Regions from separate parts of the Homo sapiens genome. Here region 1 is linked to region 2. A link means that fine-mapping ties the variant in region 2 to the expression of a gene that starts in the linked region. Tissue or cell type: whole blood. Region 2 holds a variant in brackets; the other region holds the start of a gene. All regions are shown on one strand. Distances are between the middles of the regions.

The links. PIP is the estimated chance that this variant, and not a neighbour inherited with it, causes the effect.
Region 1: it holds the start of PNMA3, and the variant in region 2 is fine-mapped to the expression of PNMA3 in whole blood (TOPMed, PIP above 0.99).

The regions. Positions count from the first base shown.
Region 1 is chrX:153,053,113-153,061,287 of GRCh38, forward strand. It overlaps PNMA3 (PNMA family member 3), which reads left to right and starts at 3,358. Exons shown (of 2, transcript NM_013364.6): 1 at 3,358-3,526; 2 at 3,838-7,350. The coding sequence starts at 3,944. The coding sequence ends at 5,335.
Region 2 is chrX:153,026,255-153,034,429 of GRCh38, forward strand. It overlaps the pseudogene LOC112268308. Among named protein-coding and RNA genes, the nearest start is that of PNMA3, 26 kb to the right of the region's middle. The variant G/A (reference allele first, on the strand shown) is at 4,030.

The sequences.
Region 1 (8,175 bases), 27 kb after region 2:
GAATTGAGGTATGGGGAGACATAATTCAACCCATAACAGTCTTAAATTAAGAGGTGTAATTTCTGTCCATTTGTGTATTTTCCCAGAGAAATTTCTTAAAGTCCAAATAAAAAACTTAATTGGTCCAATAATGATGATTCAGAGGAGCTATTGTTATCTGAGCTTCTATAAAAATTAGCGTGCTTTGGGCTGCAAGTACCAAAAGTGTGACTCAATGCCAGCCATATGAATGAACCATCTTGGGTGCCCAGCCCTGTTGAGTCTTTAGACTTGATTCTCAACTCATATCTCAATGCAACCACATGAGAGATCCCATGAGTGAACTGCCCAGCTAAACCTTCTCTCAATTTCTCACTTACAAAATTGTGAGCAGAATAAAATGGTTGTTTTAAGCCAGTATGTTTTGGGTAGCTGGTTGTGCAGGAATAGTAACTTAATGGGAAGAAATATCCAAAGTAAATAAATAACTCCTATGAAAGAATTAAAAAAGAGAAGCACCCCAGTTGAGAATTGAGACAAAAATAGGAATTTCAATCAAGAGGAATAAAAAATGCCCCCCCAACCAAGGTATTAAATCTAATTCATAATCATAGAAATTCTACATAAAAGCATAATAACAATTGACATTCCTCAGGATTAACAACATTTAAGTCACACAATATGAAATGTTAGTGATGATATGGAGCTTGATGGAAACATAAATTTGTACAGCAACCCAGAAGACAATTTGGCAATGTCTCTGAATACTAAAGATAGTCTTTGATTCAGCAATGCCATGGCTAGGTACATAACTTAGAGGAACTCTCCAAGAATATTTAAAGCAGCATTGTTTCTGATAGTAAAAATGGGAAACAACTTAAATATCTGTCAATGGGAAAATTGATAAATTTTGGTACACACACACACACAATGGAATACTATACAGAAGTGAAAATTGAGGAATAAAATTTGCTTATATCAAAATGGTGATTCTCACAAACAATAATTAGTTAATACAGTGATGACTATGAATAGTATGATATCATTTCTGCCAAGTGTAAAAGAGACAAAGACAATTTTTTAGGGATATAGTCATTTGCAGAAAAAGCACGAAGAAATGCACATGGAGGACAAGAGTGGGAGACAACAGGGAAGGAATCTGCAGGCGCTTACCCTCACTGGCAGTGTTTTATGTCTTCATCCAGTTACTACATTCAGGAGTACTGGATGTACTTTTTAAGTACGTTTTGTATGTTAAATATTGCAGAATGTATTTTATAAAGTATTTAATTACCAGAAACTCTTTAAAAAATTCCCAGGCCTGTTTCAGACTCAGCAGATCAGATTGCAGAGGTGGGGCCCATGAATCTGCCCCTTTTGTGACCCCGATAGTCACTACTGGTCTAAGCCAGGGCAAGGCCACCCCGGTGGAGGTTGCTTCCTTCATGCTGTATTATGTTTTTCACTTTACAAGTAATAATGTTTATCCATCAGTTCCCCAACTTTGGTGCTGCTGTGTTATCTACCATGCAAGGAGATGGGGAAGCAAAAGTAATTAAGACATTTCCACTGGTTTCAAGGGCAAAGGTTAACTCCAATATAAAGGAGTTCTAAAACTTTTCAAATTGGACATATTCACATCTATTGTCTTGATACCAGTGTTTCCAAATCCTTTTTTCCCAATGCCCAGAACATCCACAGATCACTGCGTCTGTCTGGGAACTTCACAGGCTTCTTTCCGGAGACATTCCAGACACGCCCCTCTGCCTTGGCATGAATACTTGGCATCTCCCCTTGACATCTCAAGCTTTGTCATTTACTCACTGTGTGACCTTGGGCCAGTAGTGTCCCTTCTCTGAACCTCTGTTTCCACCCCTGCAAGTTGGGCAGATGAAGGTTCAGTTTGAAGCTGGTTGAGCCCTTGGAGTGACAAAGCAAGGGACTGTGAATGGACAAAAATGAGAGAAATAAATTCTAATAGGCATGAAGCAACCAGGGGAGAAATAGTCCCAATTCTACCCAAAGACTGATGGGCACTAATTTAGAATCCAGTCTCAATTCTACCTTCAATACGGTGTGTGACCTTGAAAATGTCTCTTAATCTCTCTGAGCCTCATGAGTCAAATCAGGATAATGTTAATACCTGCTTCAGAGTTCTGGTGAGGAGCAAATGAAATAACTCCTGTAAAGATGTTTCAGGAATTCTGTCTGACCAGGAAAAAGCCCTTGGGGCCATTTCTTCTTGGTCCCTGACAAGTGCCAGGCTGACGAGCAGAACTCAGGGTGGGGCAGGAAGTCAGTGGACAGTTTTGTGCCCCACTCACTGCAAGGTGGCCTCCCAGACTTGGCTGGATGGGTGAACCTGGCCTGAAAATCAACCACAAGCCCCTTTTCGTTGTGTTTGGAGAGGAGCTGAAGCTGTGTGAATAGGAGTTGAGCATGCGGCTGGCAGAGCAGGCAGGACCCACAGAACACCTGGGCCCACTGCCTGAGGGACAGTCACTCCCTTCTTCATTTGGCTGCTGCCCTGGGATCAAACGGATACAATAGAACCCACGGCGCACGGCTGCCAAGGAAGGGCAGGCCCAAGGGATTGGGCTCCAAGTCCTGGAAGTGGTTTCCCAAGTCACTAGATTTGCAGCGCACAAAACCGGAAAGGTCCCGGTAAACCTGTCCACTGGCACCTGGGCAGCGAAGCGCTTTGGCCGGAGGGCCTCAGGTCCCAGCAGCGGGATGGACAGCGGGGAGATGGCTGACCCTCCTTGGGGTGGTGTGCGTGACCTGCATGAGTGCCTGGGGCATCTCCTGCACGGAATGGCACCCGCACCAGGTGCCCCTGGCCTCGCCAGCCAGAGGACCAGTCCTGGACGGGGAGGGGGAGGACAAGAGCAGGTGAACAGGCCCCAGAACCCGGCTCCCTGACCCTGGCCATAATGCAGAGCTGCCTGGCGCACCTCAGACCACTCCCTGGCCCTCTGGTGGGCACGCCGGGGTGCAGACCCCTCGCCCCGCTGGCACCTCCGTGGCACGTGCGGGAGGGGCAGGAGCCGGGACCAGGAACCGCTGTGGTGAGAGCCAAAGGCACGGGGACTGGCCGCCACAGACCTTTGGCCACCGCAGTGGGGATGGGGGTGGGCGGGCGCTTGTGTGCCCGGGGGCCCGGGGGCCCCCGTGGCGGGGGGGCTAGGGGAGAGGAGCAGGTGACGTCACCCGGGGACCTGGGGCCCCCAGGGGCGGCGGCGAGAGCCCGACCTCGTGACCCGTCCGCGCCAATGGCCCTGCGGTCTCCCGGACGACGCGGAGGGGTCCGCGCTGCACCGCCGCCGCGCCCCCGCCCCGTGTCCGCACTGCAGAGAGCCGCGGCGAGCAGGCGCCGGCGCACTGGCCCACGTGCTGCGCGAGCGAGGGAGAGCCACAGTCTGAGCGAACGTCCGCGCTGGGAGCCAGGGGTGCCCGACCCCCGTCCGCCGCCGCCGCCGCCGCCGCGCATAGCCCCCGGAGAGCCCTCTGGGGACCCCGACCAGAAGGGACCTTGCCCTGGGAGAAGGTAACAGACCCACCTGGGGAGGGAGACGCTGGGCCCCGGGAGACTCCGCCGCCCCTCGCCTGTCCGCCCTATCAGAACTGAAGCAGCCTGCAGGGCAGGGGTCCAGGGTCCTGGGGCAGCGCGGGGAGGGGGCTGAGGCCCGCAGAGACCCCACGGGGGGTGGGGGTGGGGGGCTGGGCAGGGGCGGGGCCTGGCTGCAGAGGCGCCGCCCGGGGAGGAGGGCGGCTGGGGGTGGGGGTGGGGGTGGGCGTGGATGTGGGCGTGCGGAGAGGTGGGCATTAACCTCGCTCTCGCCCTGCTCGCATTCACAGGCTGTGGAGACCTGGGCCTTCTGCGATCACCCTAGGAGTTGATCCAGATATGTGCCTCACGCCCTGATCACTCCCCCCAAATTAGTATCCGCAGAGATTCGAGGACATGCCGTTGACCTTGTTACAGGACTGGTGTCGGGGGGAACACCTGAACACCCGGAGGTGCATGCTCATCCTGGGGATCCCCGAGGACTGTGGCGAGGATGAGTTTGAGGAGACACTCCAGGAGGCTTGCAGGCACCTGGGCAGATACAGGGTGATTGGCAGGATGTTTAGGAGGGAGGAGAACGCCCAGGCGATTCTACTGGAGCTGGCACAAGATATCGACTATGCTTTGCTCCCAAGGGAAATACCAGGAAAGGGGGGGCCCTGGGAAGTGATTGTAAAACCCCGTAACTCAGATGGGGAATTTCTCAACAGACTGAACCGCTTCTTAGAGGAGGAGAGGCGGACCGTGTCAGATATGAACCGAGTCCTCGGGTCGGACACCAATTGTTCGGCTCCAAGAGTGACTATATCACCAGAGTTCTGGACCTGGGCCCAGACTCTGGGGGCAGCAGTGCAGCCTCTGCTAGAACAAATGTTGTACCGAGAACTAAGAGTGTTTTCTGGGAACACCATATCCATCCCAGGTGCACTGGCCTTTGATGCCTGGCTTGAGCACACCACTGAGATGCTACAGATGTGGCAGGTGCCCGAGGGGGAAAAGAGGCGGAGGCTGATGGAATGCTTACGGGGCCCTGCTCTCCAGGTGGTCAGTGGGCTCCGGGCCAGCAATGCTTCCATAACTGTGGAGGAGTGCCTGGCTGCCTTGCAGCAGGTGTTCGGACCTGTGGAGAGCCATAAAATTGCCCAGGTGAAGTTGTGTAAAGCCTATCAGGAGGCAGGAGAGAAAGTATCTAGCTTTGTGTTACGTTTGGAACCCCTGCTCCAAAGAGCTGTAGAAAACAATGTGGTATCACGTAGAAACGTGAATCAGACTCGCCTGAAACGAGTCTTAAGTGGGGCCACCCTTCCTGACAAACTCCGAGATAAGCTTAAGCTGATGAAACAGCGAAGGAAGCCTCCTGGTTTCCTGGCCCTGGTGAAGCTCCTGCGTGAGGAGGAGGAATGGGAGGCCACTTTAGGTCCAGATAGGGAGAGTCTGGAGGGGCTGGAAGTAGCCCCAAGGCCACCTGCCAGGATCACTGGGGTTGGGGCAGTACCTCTCCCTGCCTCTGGCAACAGTTTTGATGCGAGGCCTTCCCAGGGCTACCGGCGCCGGAGGGGCAGAGGCCAACACCGAAGGGGTGGTGTGGCAAGGGCTGGCTCTCGAGGCTCAAGAAAACGGAAACGCCACACATTCTGCTATAGCTGTGGGGAAGACGGCCACATCAGGGTACAGTGCATCAACCCCTCCAACCTGCTCTTGGTAAAGCAGAAGAAACAGGCTGCAGTTGAGTCGGGAAACGGGAACTGGGCTTGGGACAAGAGCCATCCCAAGTCCAAGGCCAAGTAGGCTCGGGAGAACAGGGCAACATTTCCTACCACAGGCCAAGGAGACAAAAGAGATATTGGAAGGAGGGGAAAGAGAAGCCCAGACAAACAGCAGATGAGTTGAGTGGGGCAGAGGGACAGGGCAGCCAGACCAAGGCCAAGCCTTCTCACCCTTGGCCAGCTGGAAGGGACTTCAGCAACCAAGACCACCTGGCAACAGGCTCAGTGGGGGTCAGGTCCAGGTCCCCGAAGAGGTGCTGGAGAGGAAAGCAGGGAGCCACTGCATCCAGCACATGGGGTGCCTGGGCCTCAGATGGGGACCCCAAAGAAGCAGAAGCTGAAGAAGGTACGGCTGGGGGTTCTGTCCTGCTCATCCAACCACCCCTAAATACCCACCCTGTGGACTTTGAGCTGAACATGCCCACTGGCCCCCAGGCCACATGGGACCTGGAGGAGCCTACCTGGGGCCTGCCCCTGCCAGCAGGTGCCAGGGCTGGTGAGGAAGAGCTGGGGGGCAGAGGTAAAGCCCTGCAGGGGAGGCCACAGGGTCCATCCCGTCTTCAGGATCATCTACACTGCACTAGGGGAGCCCCAGGAAGGCAGCACCCTGGAGGCCCTGTGCCAGTGAGGACAGGAGACCCTAAGGCCCCGGGAGCCCAGTGCCAGCCAGAGGTTGTGCAGGCAAGGAGACCAAAGATTGATGAGAAGACCCCCAGCAGGGGTACTGGGTACCCGGCAGGCCAGTGCCCTCACAGTTGACTTGGACCAGGGTGGCTGTGAAGGGAAGTCTTTGTTGCAAAGGAGGAGGAAAAGGGAGGACTTGGTAGGGTTTTGTTTCTTCTGCTTGTTTCTGTACAGGGCCACCAGACTCCTGGAGAGATCAAGCAAGGAGAACCTGGGGCTGCCATGGCCAAAGCAACTCAACAGATGCCAATGCCAATTCCAAGGCCAGCCACAACCCTGCCACCTTGGGGAATCCAGCCTGGAGGCATCCCCTAAGCAGCCAGCCATGGCCTGGGTGGAGGCACCTGAAGACGTCTGTCCCAAACTCCCCCAGCCCTGAGCTGGGAGATGACAGGGGGAAAGAGGCCCTCTCAAGGGTGCCAGATGCCTGGGTCTCCCAAGAGGGGTCCCCCAACTCACTGTTCCCGGGACAGGCTGCCCCCTGTTCCAGGAAGCTCATCCTCACCTGTGTAGGCCCCTGTAGTGACCCACGCGTCCAGCAGACGCCCACCCACCGCTAGCCGTTGTTCCTGTGCAAAGTAGTGTGCTATGCACCCACCCAGGTGGCCGCCTCTGGGCCCAAGGCACATGCTGTGAGCTTCCTGTGAGCCCAGGCTCTGCTCACTGCTGTCCCGCGTCATGAGCACCACCTCTGCTTTCCCTGTGTAGATCTAGGCCAGTGGCTGCTTGTTCTTGTGGAGCTGTGTGTGTTCTTCTCTGAGCAGCTCCTCCCCGGAGTCCCCCAGCACAGTCCCAGGAGATGACAGGAAGGAAGCACCAGGGCAAGGCGGACGCTCACCCTGTGACCACGATGGTGACCGTGACTGTGGGAGGAAGAACTGGACCCAGGACGGAGCGGGGCTGCCCTGCCTGAGGCTCCCGAGGAGCTTTGTGCTTTGGTGTTCCACCCCTGTTGTTACTCATGACTCAGTTTCCTTAACCTGGTAGGGTGTTCCCTGCTGTGTTTTCCAGTGTCCTGTGACTGTCCTGTGCGGGCCATAGGGCAGGGCCCTGCCCCAGCAGATGGGCTTGGGAGGGGACTCCCTAAAGCCAGTGGACACTGCCAGAGTCTACCTTCCTGGCAAGAGGCAGACCCCGGGGCCCTCAGGAAGGAGGGAGTTGGCAGCGGGGGCTGCAGCAGGAGTAGGAGCAGATGAGGCGTCTTGCCAGGAACCTCAGGAGGAGGGGGCCCGGGACCTGTGTGGGACCTGTGTCCTGTGGTGGCCGTTTGCAGTTTCTCTCTGTGTTGTGATTCCCTTCTCTTCAACGTTTTCAGTACGTGTTTCTCTTCAATAAACTTCATTCAGTGTTCCAGCCGGCCTCGCCTCTGCTGTGGGAAACTGGGGATGAGGTTGGCTGGGCATGGGGTTGGGGTGGAGTGAGGGCCACAGTGGCTTTGTTAACACTGGTGTATACTTGGGGCTCGGTCTGCAAGGCATTCTAGAATGCCCTATCTGCGCATGTTGGTCATGAGCTAGGGTTCACGGCCCACGGACCCAGGCAAAGAAACCCAGCTGAGCAGGCTGGATAGTCCCAGTAGACAGGACACTGGTAGGCCCAGGCAGTGGCTGGTTGGGTCCTCAGGGCACTGGTTGAGCTTCTCAGAAATGAATAACATATTTAAGGAAGGGTGAGGGACAGCAGGCTGGACCAGTGGCCCCAGGATCCCTTGTATCACTATTGGGCTTCCACACCTGGAGCATCAAAACCAGGCCCATCTCTGTGAGTGTGTGTGAGATGGTGAATATGTGTGAGTATGCGTACTAGTGATTGTGTGAGAGTGAGTGTAGGAGAGTTTGTGTGTGTCATGTGTCAGCGAATGTGTGAATATGTGAGTGTGTGAGATGGTGTGTGAATATGTTAATGTGTGTTTGTATTTGAGTGTGAGTATGCATCAGTTTTTGTGTGTGAGTGAATGTGTGTTAGTGGTCAAATGTATGTTTATGTGTTTAATGTATATGTGTGTTAGTAAAAGTATGTGAATATGTGAGAGTGAGACGGTGTGTGAATGTGTGTATGACAGTGAATGTGTGGGTGACTTTGTGTTGTTGAGTGTGCACATGAGTGAATGTGTGTTTCAGAGTGTGTTTATGAGTTTGTGTGTGCATATGCGTGAATGTGTGGAATGGGTGAGTGTGT
Region 2 (8,175 bases):
TCAATCCCAACACTTTGGGAGGTCAAGGCAGGCCAATCACGAGGTCAGGAGATCGAGACCATCCTGACTAACACGGTGAAAACCTGTCTCTACTAAAAATGCAAAAAATTAGCTAGGCGTGGTGGCACGCACCTGTAGTCCCAGCTACTCGGGAGGCTGAGGCAGGAGAATCGCTTGAACCCAGGAGGCGGAGCTTGCAGTGAGCCGAAATCACGCCACTGCACTCCAGCCTGGGTGACAGAGCAAGACTCCATCTCTCTCTCTCTCTCTCCCTCCCTCTCTCCCTCTCTCTCTCTACTCTCTCTCTCTCTCTCTATATATATATAGAGAGAGATTTATATATATATTTTTATATACGTATATATATGTGTGTGTATATATATGTGTATATATATGTGTATATGTGTGTATATGTATATGTATATATATGTGTGTATATATATGTGTATATATATGTGTATATGTGTGTATATGTATATGTATATATATGTGTGTATATATATGTGTATATATATGTGTATATGTGTGTATATGTATATGTATATATGTGTGTATATATATATAAATCTACTACAAGAGTTCACAGGCAAGTCCCTCACCTACACTTTGTCACATGTGGTCTGCTTCTGCCCCTCGTACCCTTACTCTCTTACTCTTCCTGTTGTTCCTATTGGTGGCTGGGGAAGTGACGTGAGGGCAGTGGTGCCTGTGCAGCAGTGCTCAAGGATGCATCAAGGGTTCACTCTCAGGAAACTCCCAAAGCTGCTGGCCAGATGGGTAGCCAGTCCTAGACATGGCAGAGACTGGCTGAGTTTCCCAAATGCCTCTCTTGACCAAGGCCTGCAGAAACAGAAAGTCATATTTTCACATTGGCCAATCCTTGCATTCCTCAGGAAAATGGTTCCAATGTTCCCACTCACATCCTGCTTTTTCTCAGAGCTCAGACCTGGGACCACTGAGCTGGCTGCCACAACCAGCCTCCAATACCCACACCATTCTTGGCCACACCACCCTTTTTCATTCCTGTGCCCTTGTGGTTATTTACTGAAGGCTTACCGTGTGTCTAATAGAAGGTAAAGCTCCATGACTCCCCTGCAAGAAAAATGTTCTTATTGCTCATTTACAGATGAGAAACAGAGATGTTCAGTGGTTTGTGCAAAGCCACCCAGCTGCTAGGTGAAGCCAGCTTTGCCTGCTTCCAAAGGCCGTACACACTCTTTCCAATGCAATGGCTTCCTAGGTGGTGAAGGCTGGCTTTGTAGCCTAAGAACTATGATGAGGCTCTTGAGTCAGGAACAGCTAGCCTCTTCCTGTTGTGGAGATTCCTGCAATGAGGAGGTAGGCCTGTGAATGTAGTGATTTGGGGGACCTAGTCTGGAGTCCTAGTACCTGGCTGTCCACCAACTCCCAGCTTCCAGACGCTGCCCCTAAGCATAAGCTTCCTCTCTGCCAGTTTCCAATCCCCTTTCTCTCTCAACACTTCCACTAGGCCATTTTGATGGTTGGGCCTGTTGCCCCCGGAGGCACATCAAGCCCTTACCGCGCAGGTCCCGATCCCAGGGCAACACGGATGCCTCCCCCTGTTTAGCTATTTGCCTCCCACAGAGACTCTGAGATTTTTCTCCCTCATCTATCTGAGGCTTCTGGGAGAAGTTGGAAGCCCACGTGCCCTTAGTACAGCTGGCCTGAGATATCCCTGCCCTGTGCAGTCCCAGATGGGCTGCTGGGGCGCGATCTTCCACCTTCCCATTCCAGGGCCTCAAGGCGGCCTCCAGAGTGGGCTCCACAGCCTGAAGGTGGCATTTCCCCGTGGGTGGTTGCAGTGTCTGCAGACAGTGAGCAGGCACCAGCGGGACCCCAGAGTGGCTGAGGGCACACTGGGCAGGAGCCAGATCGCTGTCCCCCCAGGCAGTAGGTGCGACAGCGGGTCCTGGTCTGGAGCCTGAGGAGAGGGGAGGAGGGTCTCCTTGCTGCAGGAGTCTGGGTGGGGTGAGCTCCTGGCTGCAGGGCACCTCTGGCTACAGAAGGGGACGATGGGAGAGAGAGGGGCTCTGGCTGTGGGGGAAGGGGACTCCTGGCTGCTGATGTGGGAGGCGTGGGAGGGGGTTGCCAGGTTGCAGGGAGGATGGCATTAGGGAGAGGGCTCCTGGTCAAGTGCTGGGAAAAAGAGGAGGTGGGCACATCCAGCTGCAGGGTTGCACATGATGGTTGGAGGGGCTCCAGCTGTAAGTTTTGTGATCAGGGGCTGTTCACCAGGTGAAAGAGGCGCTTCCTGCTGTGGAGGTGGGGGGTGCAGTGAAGGACTCTGAGCTGCAGCAGTAGGGGTGGGGGAGCATGGGCTGTGACACTGGGCAGGGGAGATGCTTCAGGCCCTGCATTTGGGAGTGGCTGGTCTCTGGCTGTGCGGTGGGGGTGGGCTGACTGGCAGCAACGTCCCTCTCTCCCCTTTGCACTCACAGGCTGCGTCAGAGACTGCAACAGTCAGCACACATTCCTGTCTGATCAGGCTCCCTCCCTCAAGTCCTCTGCGATGGCTCTGGCGATGCTTCGGGACTGGTGCAGGAGGATGGGTGTGAACGCAGAGCGCTCTCTGCTCATCCTGGATATCCCTGACGACTGCGAGGAACATGAGTTCCAGGAGGCCGTGCGGGCTGCCCTGTCGCCCCTGGGCAGGTACCGAGTGCTCATCAAGGTCTTCAGAAAGGAGCTCGGGGCCAGGGCAGCCTTGGTGGAATTCGCTGAGGGTTTAAACCAAAGCTTGATTCCCCGCCAAATAGCAGGCAAAGGGGGACCCTGGAAAGTGATCTCCCTGCCCCAGGCCCTTGATGCTGAGTTTCAGGATATACCCAGTTTCCCTGCATAGCCCCAGGGGCAAGCAGTGGCCAGAGGTGCAGGTGAGGCAGGAGCTGCAGGTGAGGCAGGATCTGTAGGTGAGGCAGGAGGTGTGAATGAGGAAAGATCTGCAGGTGAGGCAGGAGCTGCAGGTGAGGAAGAAGAGGCAGGTGATGGAGGAGCTGCAGGTGCAGCAGGAGCCATAGGTGAAACAGGAGCTGTGGGTAAGGGTGAGGCAGAAGCCACAGGTGAGGGAGGATCTGCAAGTGAGGCAGAAGGTGCAGGTGAGGGAGGAGCTGGAGATGAGTTGAGAGTTGCAGAAGAGGCAAGAGAGTCAGATGAGGGAGCCGCAGGTGATACAGGACCTGCAGGTGAGGCAGGAGCTGTGGGTGAGGCAGGAGCTGTGGGTGAGGCAGGAGCTGCGGGTGAGGCAGGAGCTGTGGGTGAGGCAAGAGGGACAAATGTAACAAGAGCCTGGGTCCAGCCTCGGCGCTGCACCCTGCAGGCTGTGCTGGAAAACAGGGCCTACCAGGAACTGAGACCCTTTTCAGGGAGGGAGCAGCCAGGCTGCGAGGAAGAGTCCTTTGAGAGCTGGATGGAGCACGCCAAGGATATGCTGCAGCTGTGGTACCATGCGTCGGAAAGGGAGAGGAAGAGATGGCTGCTGGAGAGCTTGGGTGGCCCAGCCCTGGACGTTGTGAGCGGCCTCCTAGAGGAAGATCCCAACTTGGCGGCACTGGACTGCCAGGCGCTGCTGGACTGCTGGGCAGCGGTGCTGGGGCAGGCGTTTGGAAACCGGGACCCTCGAATGACTTCCAGGCTGAAGTTCCTGACCTGAACGCAGGGGCCCTTTGCCTTCCTGGTATGCCTGGAAGGCCTGCTGCAGATGGCCCTGGAGAAGGGGGCCGTCTGCCCGGCCCTGGCCAACCACCTGTGACTGCGGTAGGTGCAGCCTCAGGCCTGCCCTGGCGAAGCACTCCAGAATACCCTGAGGGGGATGCACTGGAGAGGAGGCCGCCCTACTTCCTGGGGCTGCTTCAGCTCATCCAGGAGATGGAGGCGTGGGCGGCCTCCCCAGTGAGGAGCCAGCATGTTGTGGCCTGGCCAGTGGCCACAGTGGAAAGTGAAGATCCAGTTGCCGCCCAGGCAGCTCCTGCCTGTGGAGATGCTGCTCAGGCCTCCTCAGCCCAGGAAGAC[G/A]CCAGCCAGGCTGACCCTGGCGTGGAAGATGCTGCTGAGACTGCTCCTGCCACCAAAGAGGCCGCCAGGAGCACCCCTGCCATTAGGGAAGGTGAAAATGCCCCTGCAGGCCTCGAAGGAGCCAGAGGGTCTTGTCCAGGCAGGAGGCCAGGAGGCTGAGGAGCCCCCCGACCCAAGGGGGTCTTATGTTCATACTGGAGGAGTTGGAAAATGAGGATGGGGCCAGGAAGGTTGGTCAGCCCAAATCCTCCCCAGGCAAATAGGCTCAGAGGGCCCCAGGGCCTCCTCTCCTCTCAGGCCGCAGCATCCTGGAGGCAGTGGGGAGGCCAGGCCAGGGCTGGTCCCTCATCCCACATCAGGATCGGGGCCCCCCACCTCCCTCCAAAGGGCCCTGGCCACCACCATCAGCCCTTCCCGGTGACCCAGATGACCACGTTGATACCAAATGGGGTTGGGGGAGGCACCCCTGCTTTGCACCCAGTGCTGCACCCAGCCCCAGCCCCAAACCCTGCCGTCTCTGGGGGGCTGGCCAGGAGGGAGCCCTGAGTGGCCAGCTGCGACCTGGGTGGGGGCACCTGAAGATGTCTGTCCCCCACCCCTTGTCCTGGGTTGGGAGAGACAGGGGAAAGAGGTCCTCTCAAGGGTGCCAGCTGCCTGGGTCTCCCAAGAGGGTTGCCCCATTTGCCGTCCCCGGGGCAGGCTGCCCCCTGTTCTGGGAAGCCCACCCTCACCTGTTTAGGCCCCGTAGTGACCCACGCGCCCAGCAGACGCCCACCCACTGCTAGCTGTCGTTCCTGTGCAAAGTTGTGTGTTGTGCACCCACCCGGGCGGCCGCCACTAGGCCCGGGGCATGTGCTGTGAGCTTCCTGTGAGCCCAGGTTCTGCTCACTGCTGTCTGTCCTGCATCTTAAACACCACCTCTGCTTTCCTGGTGTAGATCTAGGCCAGTGGCTGCTTGTTCTCGTGGAGCTGTGTGTGTTCTTCTCTGAGCTGCTCCTCCCCGGAGGCCCCCAGCACAGACCCAGGAGATGGCGGGAAGGAGGAACCAGGGCGCGGCCAATGCTCACCCTGTGACCACGATGGTAACCATGACTGTGGGAGGAAGAGCCGGACCCGGGACGGAGTGGGGCTGCCCTGCCTGAGGCTCCCAGGAGAGCTTTATGCTTTGGCATTCCACCCCTGTTGTTACTTGTGACTGTTTCCTCGACCTGGTGGGCTGTTCCCTGCTGTGTTTACTGGTGTCCTGTGACTGTCTGTGATGACTATAGGGCAGGGCCCTGCCCCAGCAGATGGGCTTGGGAGGGGGCTCCCTGAAGCCGGTGGACACTGCCAGAGTCCACGTCCTGGCAAGAGGCGGGCCCTGGGGCCCTCGGGAAGGAGGGAGGTAGCAGTGGGGTCGGCAGCAGGACGGGGGTAGACGAGGCGCCTTGCCAGGAACCCCAGGAGGAGGGATCCTAGGACCTGTGTCCTGTAGTGGCTGTTTGCAGTTTCTCTCTGTGTTGTGGTTCCCTTCTTTTCAGTGATTTCGGTACACGTTTCTCTTCAATAAATTTCATTCCATTTTCCAGCCGGTCTCGCCTCTGCTGTGGGAAACTAGTGGGAAAGGTCTCTTTGGGATAAAATGGAAGTTGGGGGACAACAGTGGCCTGGAATTCTGACCCTATTGTGCTCACTGGGATACGGTCAGGGCATAGTAGGCCAGCGATTGTAGAGAATGACCTAACTGCGATGGTGGTTCCAACCCAGAGTCAGTGGCTTATGAGGATGAGGAAAGAAACCAAGCTGAACATGCTGGATGGTGCCAGTTGACGGAACACTGCCGTGCGAGGGCAATGTGTGGCTTGCTCCCCAGGGCATGCATGGAGGCTCCCAGAACGAAGTGCATAAGACGTGGAAGGGCAGGCAGGGGACAGCAGGCTGGGGCGGAGGCCTGGGTTGAAGCTCTAGCATAGACATCTTTTTAACTGTTCCTCAGTTCCTCATGTTTATCCTGTGTGTGGAGCTTTCACCATCTCTTTGGAAAGACAGAAGAGATGGATAAGGAAAAGGAGTAGAACAGAGCGGCACCCCTTGCCTTCCCCAGAGTCTGGGTAGCGGGCGCAGGACGTGTCGCCTGTCCAAATGCGCAACTTTCACCAGTGTACGCTACGCGTGCGCGCCTGTGCACCTTGACGAGCACGCAGCCGTCATGAGTGCGCCTGGGCACGCCGCCATTTCCTGCAGCCGCGACAGCACGGTCGTATATTTCCGGTTGTCATTTTATTCTTTTTGAGAAATGGTCTCGCTCTGTTGCCCAGGGTGGAGTGTAGTGGCGCTGTCATAGCTCACTGCAACCCCGACCTCCTGGGCTCAAGCGATTCTCCCGCCTCAGCCTCCCGACTAGCTGGGACCACAGGCGTGCAACCACCATACCCGGAACCACAGTCACAGTCGGTCGCAGTGCCCGCTGGGAAAATGCGACCGTCCACAAAGCGAAACGGCCATCGGGGCGAGTTCGGCCTCGGCGGGGATTCTCCTGAGGTCACGCCCGCTCTGGCCGCCAGAGGACGCCCGAGGATCACGAATGGGCCCGAGGAGCTGGCTGCCCCTTCCCACGCTCAAGGTCTGCAGCCGTGGCCAGAGTGGCCTTGGGGTGACCGCGCGTGGACCGTCGCCGGCGGGAGGGAGCGCGGTCCCGCGGGGGCCGAACGGGGCTCCTGTGGCCTGAGCTTGTTTCGCAGGGAGCCCTGGCGGCCATGGCTCTGGGACACCAGACAACGGTCGTCAGGGCTGTCCAGGGTAAGGGGGTGTGGACGTGCAGACAGGGAGGGCAGCTGGACCCTCCAACCATGCTGGGCCCTTGGGCTGACCGGGGCTCGTCTGTGGGGCTCAGTGAGGAGGGACTTTGTTCCCTAGGAGTTTGATGAGGGAGCGCCATGGGGGTGGCGTCATCCTGACATCCTGCAGGGCAGTGGAGCCTTACTTTCCCTAGCCCCAGAGATCATGAAGTCTCTCTTTGTTTAAAGGTAGAAACCAAGGACAAGAGATTGGTGGGAACTGCTCTGGTTACAAAATTGCAGAACCAGACTTCTTAATTCTGGGACCCGTGCTGCTTTCATTACACTCTACCGCTTCCAGTTTGTGATGTGCTCCTTCTGTCAACAGTTAGCAAGCCTGCTGGCTCTGTTGCTCTGGCATGAGTCCAAAGGTGAAGGATGGGGGGCTGATGCATTTTGATACTCAAAATGTCTCCTAAACTGTCCAGTATGGTATACCATCTCCTGCCTCCTTGATGCTTGTGATGGCACCCCAAACAGTATATTTGGAAATCTAACATTCTTACTCCTGCCTGGACAGGCCCTCAGTATCATTCAACGAAAGCTCAATTATTACACAGGGAGTGACAGCACAGTTGTGACTTTCCCATTGTCATTTTTTTTTTTTTTGACACAGTCTTGCTCTGTTGCCCAGTCTGGTCTATGTCCACAGTATCTTCCTGGTCTGCTTATACGAAGTCAAGCAATTTCTGTGCTGGCATGGGTTCCAAGCACCTGAGAAAGCCCAATGTCATCTCTTTTCACAGTGGTTTTGTCTTTTGGCCGTACTTTATATTCCTTCTAGCATATAACCCCTTCCTGACTGAAGGCCAGGCAGAGCACGGGCCACTTTAAAGTTTAACTTTCAAGTAACTAAGATCCTCCCTTTCCCAGAGCAGCAGCAGTGCTTGGAGAAGCACCTGCCTCAGTCTTTATTCTCCCTAGAAACTGACCTTTCCTTTTCCCATTGTAACTTACCTCTGAGCAAGTTGGCAAAAAAGCCTGCATGCTCCCTTCTTTGCTGCATGAAGGAAATTCAAACCATGCAATTTCCTGTCTCCATGTGGGAATTCTCATCTTGGCCCCCCACTTCTAACCTCAGTGAAAACCTAGGCCACTCTCCTTCCTTTGCTTCCAGAAGCCATTTTGGAATTGCTGGAGATGACTGCTCCCCTCTCCTGAAAACCCTCAATTACATAAGTAGTGAAACTTTTCTTGTCCTCTTGGTGTGTATGTGGTGTCATCAGTCTTAACATCCTAGCCAATTTTTGAGTGGGGATCTATCTGCCTCTGAAGGTGACCTTAAAAACAATTTTGCAGGAGGCATAATGGAGGTTAGAGCCACTTTAAA